Linked DNA regions of Homo sapiens. The protein of the gene in region 3 interacts with the protein of the main gene of each other region in a pairwise test. Each region holds a gene or a part of one and is shown on either strand. Other genes may lie near its edges.

Region 1 (3,652 bases), on a different chromosome or scaffold from region 3:
AAACTCATATGCCCAGTGAAGATATGTATCATTCGTAATGACTATTGAATTGCAATATTCCCTGAAACCAAAGTTTTTATTTTCTTATCTCCTAGGGAATCTCTTAGTAAAGTTCTGTATAAAAGGCTTGATTGTGCAGAGGTGAGTGGTATTTAAAAGGCCATATGATTATTTTTTGAGACACAAATGAACACATACTTTTTTCAGCTTCAAATGAGGCAATTCTATTACATAGATCTTTTTAATAAAAGAGAAACAGATATGTTGAGAGGCTACCCATTTACACTTCTAGCAATTTAGGATTTTCAGCTATAAAAGAATATAGGTATACATTTCTCTACCAAAGATAATTTTACTTGGTATTTCTTTTTCTTGAATGAGCAGATTAATCAATATGAAAATTTAAAGTGTTGAGGGGGTGCCTATAGTATCCACTAAACCTAAGGTAAAACACACTTCTGCAAAAGTCGAACAACCTCTAATTCACTACTGTTTGTATTCTGAGACTACCAGACTTATGAACATTTTCATAATATTATAAAAAATAAAAATATAACCGAAGCAACTTCCTTGAGTAAAATATTTTTACATAAATCTACCTGTTAAAAACAGATTTTAAAAAAAAATTTTAAGGCAAGTCCTAGTTTTATAAGACTAACAGTTATGTACTGAGAATCAGAAATTGTCTCTGTGCTGATAAAAACAGGGAACACAAGCTATCAAATTTCTATGCATAATTAATGCAACTGTGGATGAAGGCACCCACCTGGGAGTGTGTGGGTCTCTACATTATTTATAATCTTGAAACTGACCAAGAGCACATGTTTTCTTCCCAGCTGCTGCCTTGCTTCTCTAATACCACTGCATGTGCAGGATTTCAATACTGGTGTAAATATTATCTAGACCACATAACATTTCCAACATGAAGTAATAGCTATCCAGACAATTTGTAGCCACTTCCTTTGGAGACAACTGGCCTGGACCTATGTCTACTGCTCTTAATTAAGTCATAAAAGGAGCCTCACAGTCTCACATACATCCTTTGATCACTTACTTGAGGGAGAAAATATATTTCGTGGAATCATATTTTCACAAACAAACTATCTTTATTGTTGATGAAGGTTAGTTATAAAATAGCACTCAGAAATCTAAGTAGCCATAGAGAAGTATTTTTCCTCTCAAAAAAATCAGACTTGTACCTTTCGTTTTGAAGGCAAAGTTACATAACTTGCATACATAAGGCCGAACATCAGTATGGGTACGGATGTGTTTTTTGAGCATGCTTGGCTTCTTACAGCGAATCCCACATTCTTCACAAATGTACTTTCCCCGGCCACGTCCTCTGACATATACATAATCTTCATTCGATTTGTACCTGTTTTAAAAAGAGGGAATCCAGTGTGTTTTCAAATATTCTTAGCATGCTATATATTAAAGCAAAAGCTAATTATTTGCACGGCAAAGTTTTATGAGGGTCTTTTGCAGACAATTATTCAACTTTACTTCTACGAAGCCTGTGAAATTTATGCAGTAAATGGCTGAAAGAACTAGATAATAGATTTGGCACTGTAAACAAAATGTAATGCTCCATGGAATTCAAAATGGAATTGGCTTCACTATTACATGTGAATTTATAGAGTTGGGAAGTAGATGTTCAAAATGACTTATGTAAACCTCAAAGAGCTGCAGACCTTTGGACTGGATTCTAGTATGGCCTCCAATCAAGGGACATACAAAAAGCATACCAACATGTTCATCATGTATCTTTTGTTAACATTACATCATCTAAGATGTACATGTACAAACATACAACCCTCTAAATTTGCTAAATTAAGTATAACTGATAATAGAATTCTTCATTGCAAGTTCCTACTCTATTTTTACAATCCTGGCACGAGAGTGCCTCAGAAATTTCTAGTTTACACAGGGTGAGCTCAGCTCACCAACTGTTGTCTACAGATTTGATCTGCTCTTCCCAAAGACCATGAATCTGTAATAATGTGGAGTCTAAATTTCAACTAGCTTCTTCAAGGTAGTTACATAATGAAAACTAGAGATTCTATTTTTAATCAAATTTGCATTTGTTTCCAGAAGGGTTTCATAGAGATGTTTGAAAGGATATCTGAGGTCATCTTGCTTAATCAAATCGGCTAGAAAAACAGTCTTAGGTATTTTCTTTGATAATCAAGGGAAGAAATCTACCCAATGCTCAACCATTCCATTTTAGAATACAATAAAACATAATTTGTCATAAGATATAGTAGTAGTATACGGACTAATTCAATGACTGTCATTATCTCTTAAGTCAAAGCTAGGCTAGAATTTTGGGTCTAATGTTATTTTTGGAAAGACGCTCCATTTGGGGAGTTCTTTTCATAACTTCCAAAGGTAAACTGACATGCAAAATGCCCTAATCCACTGTGGATTTAGTTAAAGGCACTAAATTTACAGTTTTTTTACATTCTAAGAGCATTGCAAACTTCCTCATTTTATCCTAGCTAATCCACAAACAGGAATAAAGGCAAGTTTAACTTCAGTCATCCAATCTATTGAAATAATTTTAAGAAAGGAAATCCATCCACATATTTAAACAGCAACTCTGTTACGGATTCACATCTAATCTTAACGTTATCTACTTTTTGGTCAGTACCAATCCAGATGAGAGTTAAGTAGAAACTATTCAAAACTATGAATAATCAATTTTGCATGTCTTCCGTTCCTTTAAATTTCCCCCCTTTTACCAGGAATTTTGACTTCCACTTGTTCTTCAAAATTATTTTGAATTTTATCTTTGTCTTTTGCAATAAAGTAGAAAAAACCCTAAAGATGCAAATGTCTTTCACCTTTAAATTTCACTATTCTCTGCCCCTAACTAGATGAAATTGCTTAAGACATATAGACTAAAACAAATACTTTTGTACAAAGCTAATTTTCTTCAAGGAAGGATACTTCAAGCTTACTATAGCCTGCCATCATAGTGATGGGAAATGCATTTTATCATCAAGCAGTATAATTTTATTTTCAATGTCTTAGCTGATTAACTTGCTTCCAGAATGAAAATACAGTAAAATTCTGTATAAAATATAATGATGTATTAGAGAAACTGGTATAAATAATATATCATACAACAGTTCTACAGGCCCATGAATCTACTTGATAAGGTAATTGATGGATTTTGAAAAACATTCAAAGCTGTGTTTAACTAAATTATTGAATTTATTATTAAACCTATCAGTTAGACAATATACACTTACAATTTTGGTCAGTAATACTTTTTATTTTTTTAGCTATCACTTTGCAATTGCCAAAATAAGAGGAGGTAACACAAGGTTTGGAAAAAACACTTGGTCACCACTGGGCAGAAATTGGGCCACAGATTAAGAAGTAATGGGACACAGCCCATAAAACGGGGCAATTAAAGGAGGAGGAAATGAAATATGGGCACAATCCTTTTGGATCACCAAAACACAGCAATAAAATGTTCACATACGCTTTTTCACTTGTGTCCTTCGTTAGTGGAGATGGGCTCCCCAAAGCATACAGTAATTGTGGAGTTCTCGCTAATCTATTGGTGCAAGTACACTGCTATGAAGGCTGCTGAATGTGAGAGGGTTGATTCAGTCACAGGGACCTCTCAGTCTCTGAGGAGAGA
Region 2 (3,652 bases), on a different chromosome or scaffold from region 3:
TCTCTCCCTGGAGCCTCTTCCCTGGGGACTTTGAAGGGCGGGAGACTTGTTGTCACTCCTAATTCAGACTCCAGTCACACTTGGGTTTTCTCTGACCATCTTGCCTACTACCTTCCCCACCTACCCCCGCCACCCCAACACCTTAAGAAAAGGAGATCACCTAAAGAGGAGGAATCAGAATTTAGGTTGGGGAAGAAAAGGGCAAGGGTTTCATTTGTCCCTGTGCTTCTGTCTTCTGGGACTCTCTGAGGGGTAAGACAGTGGTGGGCACACACAGCCAAAGGAAGCTGGGGTACAGGGGAGTGCGACTCTGAGTGTGGAGTTTATTACTTGGCAGGAAGCACTTCTAGTCTTTAACACATGCCCGTAAATGCCATTGGGAAGATTTGTTAATAAAATTATCTGGAAAGATTTGTTGAGTACCTTTTCTGTGCCAGATAGGTTAGGTTATAAGCATATTACAGGTAGCCTTTCACTCACTGCTCCAGTCAGCCCTTCCTGGAGTTCCCTGTGTCTCCACCACGCAGATGAGGAGACTGAGGCTAAGGATGGAATCACTGGGCGAGTCGGGGAGGGGTTGTGATCTGGAATCTGTCGGGTCTCGCTGCTCCTCTGCTGAGGTCAGCCCTCACTGGGAGTCACTGTGTGAGTAGTTGGCTTTCTCTGAATCCCCCCAGCGGGTGGATTTGGGCCTGGAAGACAAAGTTGGCGCTCCTGTTTGTGGCTTGTAAGGAGTGGTTGGTGTTTCCAGGGAGGAATCAATGCTGCTCTGGGGAACATGGAGGAGGACAACTGGAGGTGGCATTTCTACGACACCGTGAAGGGCTCCGACTGGCTGGGGGACCAGGATGCCATCCACTACATGACGGAGCAGGCCCCCGCCGCCGTGGTCGAGGTGATGGGCGGGAGGCTCTGGGTGTTCTCGTGGTCTGTTTCTAGTACAAAAGAATCCTGGAAAAAAATGTAAGCAATTGAGGCGGATGTGGCAGCCAAAAGAATGGTGATGAGCAAAGTTCACAAGAAGAGTCTTTTTCCGTTATGAACTATGCATTATATGTAACAAGAAAACTTCTCTTTGATGAAGTGTTGACATTTTCATAAAATAGGTTACTTTGGGTTTGCAGATTTGTGTTAAACTTGTTTAGTGTAGATTAGCTGCGAATATCTTGACTCCTTTAAGGTGTTAAGGTTTTTGTTTGTTTTTATCTTTCACAGCTAGAAAATTATGGCATGCCGTTTAGCAGAACTGAAGATGGGAAGATTTATCAGCGTGCATTTGGTGGACAGAGCCTCAAGTTTGGAAAGGGCGGGCAGGCCCATCGGTGCTGCTGTGTGGCTGATCGGACTGGCCACTCGCTATTGCACACCTTATATGGAAGGGTAAGGCCGCCCCCGTCCACCTGAGACAGGACACGTAGTGCTGGGGCTTATGGTGACAGTGGGGAATGGGTTAGCGTGCCCAGTGAGTCAGCCAGAGATTACGTAAAAAGCAACAGAGAACAGCAGCGTGGGGCGCATGCAGCGACTGTGGATGTGACAGGACCAGACGTGTGCCTTGAGGAGCTGTCCCTAAGGCAGTGTGTGACTTCTTGCATCTATGTCAGAAAGTTGAATCGATAATCTTACATACCAGGTTTTAACTTGGGATATGTGACACTCAACATACAAGAGCAGAGCAAGCAGGCCAGGCACAGTGGCTCAGGTCTGTAATCCCAGCACTTTAGGAGGCCAAGGCAGGAGGATCACTTGAGACCAGAAGTTTGAGACCAGCCTGGACAACATAGCAAGACCCTGTCTCTACAAAAAGTTTAAAAATTAGCTGGGCATGGTGGTACATGCTTGTAATCCCAGTTACTCAGGAGGCTGAGGCTCCTGGATCACTTGAGACCAGGAGGTTGAGGCTACAGTGAGCCATGTTCGTACCACTGCACTCCAGCCTGGGCAACAGGAGACCCTGTCTCAAAAAAAGAGAAAGAACAGGCTGGGTGCGGTGGCTCACGCCTGTAATCCCAGCACTTTGTGAGGCCTAGGCGGGCAGATCACAAGGTCAGGAGTTTGAGGCCATCTTGCCTAACACTGTGAAACCCCGTCTCTACTAAAAATACAAAAAAATTAGCCAGGCATGGTGGCAGGCACCTGTAGTCCCAGCTGCTTGGGAGGCTGAGGCAGGAGAATGGCGTGAACCCAGGAGGCGGAACTTGCAGTGAGCCGAGATCGCACCCCTGCACTCCAGCCTGGGCAACAGAATGAGACTCCATCTCAAAAAAAAAAAAAAAAAAAGAACAAGTATTTTAAGTCTCTTTTACCACCTCTGAGTTCCTGAATGGATTGGTTTTGTTTGTTTTGTTTTGTTTTGTTTTTGAGACGGAGTCTCACTCTGTCACCCAGGCTGGAGTGCAGTAGCACAATCTCAGCTCACTGCTACTTCCACCTCCTGGATTCAAGTGATTCTCCTGCCTCAGCCTCCCGAGTAGCTGGGACTACAGGCGCACGCCACCATGCCTGGCTAATTTTTTGTATTTTAGTAGAGACAGGGTTTCCCATGTTGCCCAGGCTGGTCCCGAACTCCTGAGCTCAGGCAGTCCACCTGCCTTGGCCTCCGAAAGTGCTGGGATTGCAGGCGTGAGCCACCGCACCCGGCCATGGATTGTTTTAATATTAACTGTTAACACTGAAGAAAGACTTGAGGTGACAATAGTTACTGGGTAATCAGAGTCAACTTTGGCATGGCCAAATAATATTCTGAACGGTATTGATTCAGAGTAATCAATATTCTGAACTTTGTTGTTTTCTGATGCATGGGGACGGATCGTTAATTTGCAGGTTGTTAGAACACCAGTGACTTCTCTGTGGCTGAGTGCATCGACAAGTGTGTGGTGGGAGGAGACCGCGGCTCCATCTGGAGCAGGAGCTGTCATGTGGGGAGCTGGCCCAGGCTTACAAGAGCGACTTGTGCTGGCTGAGGGAACGGCAGGTCCAGGCGGGCAGCGCTGTCCGGCGCCTACCTTTCTGCGGTGCCGGAATCTGCTCGTCTGCAACCGTCCGCTTTGGTAGCTGCCAGCCACATGGGGCTGTTGCTAATGTGGCAGGTGTAGCTGAAGAGCTGAATGTTTTGACTTATTTTAATTAATTAAGTGGTTATGTGTTGCCAGTAGCTCCCATCTGGGCTGTGACTGCATGGTCTGCGGACCTCACTCTGGCACCAGACTCCGAGTGGAGCTGCATGCGGCCACCGGACAGTGTGGAGTGCCTCTTCGGGTTGTGTAGAAGTAGGAAATGTGTCACCAAAATAGGAGCTGTTGCTGCTGCGTTCTCTAGCACACCTGCCTTGTCTGTACTGCTCGGCGTGGAATGCCTCTCGGGCTCTGACAGTGTCACTGACACTGTTGCTGATCTCCTTGGATTTACCTGGTCCATTTGGATCAAGTTCTTTCACCTATTCACATGAGCAGATACCACCTTAAAACCTTAAAGTTTGGCTTAACACTTCTTGCCCTTTTTTTTTCCTTTCTTTTAGTCTCTGCGATATGATACCAGCTATTTTGTGGAGTATTTTGCCTTGGATCTCCTGATGGAGAATGGGGAGTGCCGTGGTGTCATCGCACTGTGCATAGAGGACGGGTCCATCCATCGCATAAGAGCAAAGAACACT
Region 3 (3,652 bases):
CACAGTGGGCCTGGGCTCCACATGGAGAAGCGAAGGAGTGGGAGGGAACCCTGCGGGGCAGCGGGCGGTCTCCTACCCAAGCCGGCCGTGTACCCATCACACTGCATTCGAGGAGCATTGCACACAGCAATCCTCATGTTCTAAGTGCTTCCTACCTCCCTTGTGGGAAATCTGAGAGAGGGGTTTGGGTACAGAACTACTCTCCCAGCTCAGCCAGAAGCCAAACTTCCATTCACCGTCTCCCGCAGATTTACAGTTTTCTCTATCCAAGGAGAAGACACCACTGAAAAACCATGGCAAAACCACGTGGTAACCTTCAGTTTACAGAACTTGAAGCAGAGGCTATTTCAGAAAGAAAGGATAATAAAGACGTTTATTTGCATTTGTCAATCAACTTAACATACAGCTGAGAAAGAAAGACTAAAAACCCTCTAATAAAGATTGTTAACTGACAGAAGCATTTTGTTTTTGTTTATTTTTTGAGACAGGGTCTCGCTCTGCCACCCAGGCTGGAGAGCAGTGGCGCGATCTCCACTCACTGCAACTGCCACTTTCTGGACTCAAGCAATCCTCCTGCCTCAGCCTCTCAAGTAGCTGGAACTAGATACACACAGCACTGCACCCGGCTAACGACAGAAGCATTCTTATGATACGATCTCCTCTCGGCTCACTTCATCTTAGTCCTGGAGGTCTGACTGTCTAGTTTCTTCTTCTTCAGAATTAATGTTTCCTGAAAAGAAAAGAGAAACATGAGTATATCTCATATTTACTTTGTTCTATTTTTAAAGCCTTTATTCACTAACAGATCTTTTGCCGAAAAAAATTATTGTAACTATTAAGCATTCATCAGTCAAAAATTGAATGTTAAATTTTATCTCATATGCACTTCAACAGTTTTTTCTTTTGGTACCCGACATAAAATAAGCAAAATACGTACTCAAAGTAAATGCTAAGACAAGACTATCCATGTAACATCAGTAATTCTCTTATGCCTGCACACCTGTCCAAAACAGCCAGCTTTGTGGCTAAAACATGTAATTGCTTGGCTATTAATTTAAAAGAAAAGCAGGCCGGGCGCAGTGGCTCATGCCTGTAATCCCAGCACTTTGGGAGGCCAAGGCAGGCGGATCACTTGAGGTCAGGAGTTCGAGACCAGCCCGGCCAACATGGTGAAACCCCGTCTCAACTAAAAATACAAAAATTAGCTGGGCATGGTGGTACATGCCTGTCAACCCAGTTACTTGGGAGGCTGAGGCAAGAGAATCGCTTGAACCCCGTGGCAGAGGTTTCAGTGAGCCGAGGTCACGCCATTGCACTTCAGCCTGAGCAACAGAGCAAGATTCCATCTTAAAAAAAAAAAAAAAAAAAGCAGAAATTTGCCACATTCTTATAAGACGCTATATTTAAATGTTTTGTGAAAGGTAGAGCTATTTTTTATTATTAATTAAACTCTATAACTTTCACTGTTGGGTATATTAAAGAAGAAATTAGCAGGGTAAATCTCCAATGTAATGTGGGATTCATGATGAATACATGCTGAACTTGCATTATTTTGATAAATGTTCTGCCGACTAAGCCTATTTTGTATTACTCCCTTTTCACTTAGGGCCCTCCTGACACTGTGGCCTGGGTGACCCTTTGCTGGGGGCTGTTCTGTGCCCTGCAGGGTATTCAGCACCGTCCCCGGCCTCCACCCAGGAAGATGCCAGCAGCACCTCCCTCACCAGCCTCCCAAGTCTCCAGACATTGCCAAATGTCCCCTGGAGCCCCAAAACCACTGAGTTAAGGGGGTGTTCCCTCTGTCCAAGGCTGGTGCATGAACCCACAGTCTCAGACGCCCGCTGGTACTGGGCATCGTCCACTCGGCCCCATCTCTCCCAGTCCGGTTTTCAGGATTCCTCCTGCTCCATCCCCTCCGTTATCTCCCCCACCAAGTTTCTGGGGCCTCCTGCCTTGCCTGGCTCCAGGGCACCCATCCTCATTGCCCCAGAGAAGCTCAGAGAGCAAGCCTGATACAGGCAATCCCCACAGCTCCCAGAGGTCCCGCCTACTGGGCTCAGGATCAAGTTCAAAGGCCATCTGGTTCCAAGGGAAAGGGGCCACCTCCCCACCCCCACACTCTTCTGCTGTCAGACTCTGCTCTCTGCCTGGAATTTCCTTCCTGGTTTCACCCATTCCTTGCCACCTCCCTCCCAGCTAACCCGGAGTTTCCTGGTCCTGCCCCAGGTGAGTCATCACCTCTCCTGGGTACATGGTAACACGTCCCTGTCACTGCAGGGAACTCACTGATTCCTTTATTCCAGCTTCCCATTAGGTGCTAGAGGGCGAGAGCCCAGCCCCTCACTCCCACACTGCCTATCAAACCCAGTGTCTCCCCCTCCAGCTGTGCTCCACAGTGACTAAGGACTGACATCTGTGGGCACAGCTAGATGCTGCTGTAACACTGTGCATACTCTAGCCACTCAGTCCTAACAGAATCCTGTGGACTCCCTACCTACCAGGGCTCACTCTATCCACCCTCCCTGTGCAAGTCAGAGAAGCAGAGACGATGCTCACTTGTAAAGCCAGGTTTCCACCTGACCCCACGTCCCACCTCAGCACTGCGTCACTGGGTGCATTGCTACAGCGCTCAGGGGAATTACCGATCACGAAAGTCTATGCCAGCGCTCAGGGGAATTACCGATCACGAAAGTCTATGTGTGCTTCAAGCATCTAAGAGAAAACTGCTTTATGTGATTTCATTATTTCAGGTATTATTTTCAAAGGAATGGGAAGTATATTCTTAATTTACAACAGAGACAAACTAAGTGGAATGGGACTGCAGACCCCGTGCCTGAGGCCGCCGTGCCCAGGCTGTTCCCAGATGGCCCTTTCCCTCACAAGCACGACACCCTCTTTCAGTCAGATGTGAAAAGTGCGTTAAGGGAAGCGAGTCCTCTCTCCAGACTTTCTGCAAGTGCCCACAAGCACTTGGGGAAAGATTTTTAAAGATTCCAGGAGCCTGAGGCTTCAGTCAGTCAGAACTGAGGTCAAATCCCTGCCCTATGAGCTGGCAGAGGCAGAAGTTTCTAGATTAATCTTACATCCAAACCCATTGAAAAAGAGCTAGTTCCCGACACCACTAGTCTGAAACCATACTCCTGTTAGTCAGCCCTGCTAAAAATCATGCAAATCCCAGCACTTTGGGAGGCCGAGGCGGGCCTCCTGTGTGAGGTCAGGAGTTTGAGACCAGTCTGTCCAACACGGTGAAACCCACCTCTACTAAAAATACAAAAAAATTAGCCGGGCATGGTGGCATGCACCTGTAATCCCAGCTACTTGGGATGCTGAGGCAGGGGAATTGCTTGAACCAGTGAGGTGGAGGTTGCAGTGAGCCAAGATCGCACCACTGTACTCCAGCCTGGGTGACATAGCAAGACTCCATCTCAAAAAAAAAAAAAAAATCATGCAACAGAAGAAAGCCAGGCTCTGCATGTCTGACAGGGCTCTCCAGCCTGGGGTCGGTCCTCCTGTGACAACGCGCATGGGCACCGCTGCACACCCAGGCCTCTCCCACTGCAGCCAGGCTTGCAGGAGGGCCTGCCAGGGAGCAACGTTCTGAGATGGCTCCAGTGAGCGCTCACAGGGGGCCCCCTAAGCCTTCCTCGAGTCC

Evidence for each region.
Region 1: the proteins of RSPH1 (region 3) and HIVEP2 interact in a two-hybrid assay, tested with the Homo sapiens proteins (one large-scale study listed by BioGRID and IntAct).
Region 2: the proteins of RSPH1 (region 3) and SDHA interact in a two-hybrid assay, tested with the Homo sapiens proteins (one large-scale study listed by BioGRID and IntAct).

What each region holds. Positions count from the first base shown.
Region 1 is NC_000006.12:142,763,600-142,767,251, forward strand, and holds part of HIVEP2 (transcription factor HIVEP2), read right to left. Parts: intron 1,376-3,652; coding exon 1,200-1,375; intron 1-1,199.
Region 2 is NC_000005.10:224,668-228,319, forward strand, and holds part of SDHA (succinate dehydrogenase [ubiquinone] flavoprotein subunit, mitochondrial), read left to right. Parts: intron 1-751; coding exon 752-895; intron 896-1,215; coding exon 1,216-1,380; intron 1,381-3,517; coding exon 3,518-3,652. UniProt on the Homo sapiens protein: Flavoprotein (FP) subunit of succinate dehydrogenase (SDH) that is involved in complex II of the mitochondrial electron transport chain and is responsible for transferring electrons from succinate to ubiquinone (coenzyme Q).
Region 3 is NC_000021.9:42,472,141-42,475,792, forward strand, and holds the end of RSPH1 (radial spoke head 1 homolog), read right to left. Parts: intron 731-3,652; coding exon 678-730; 3' UTR 346-677; downstream 1-345.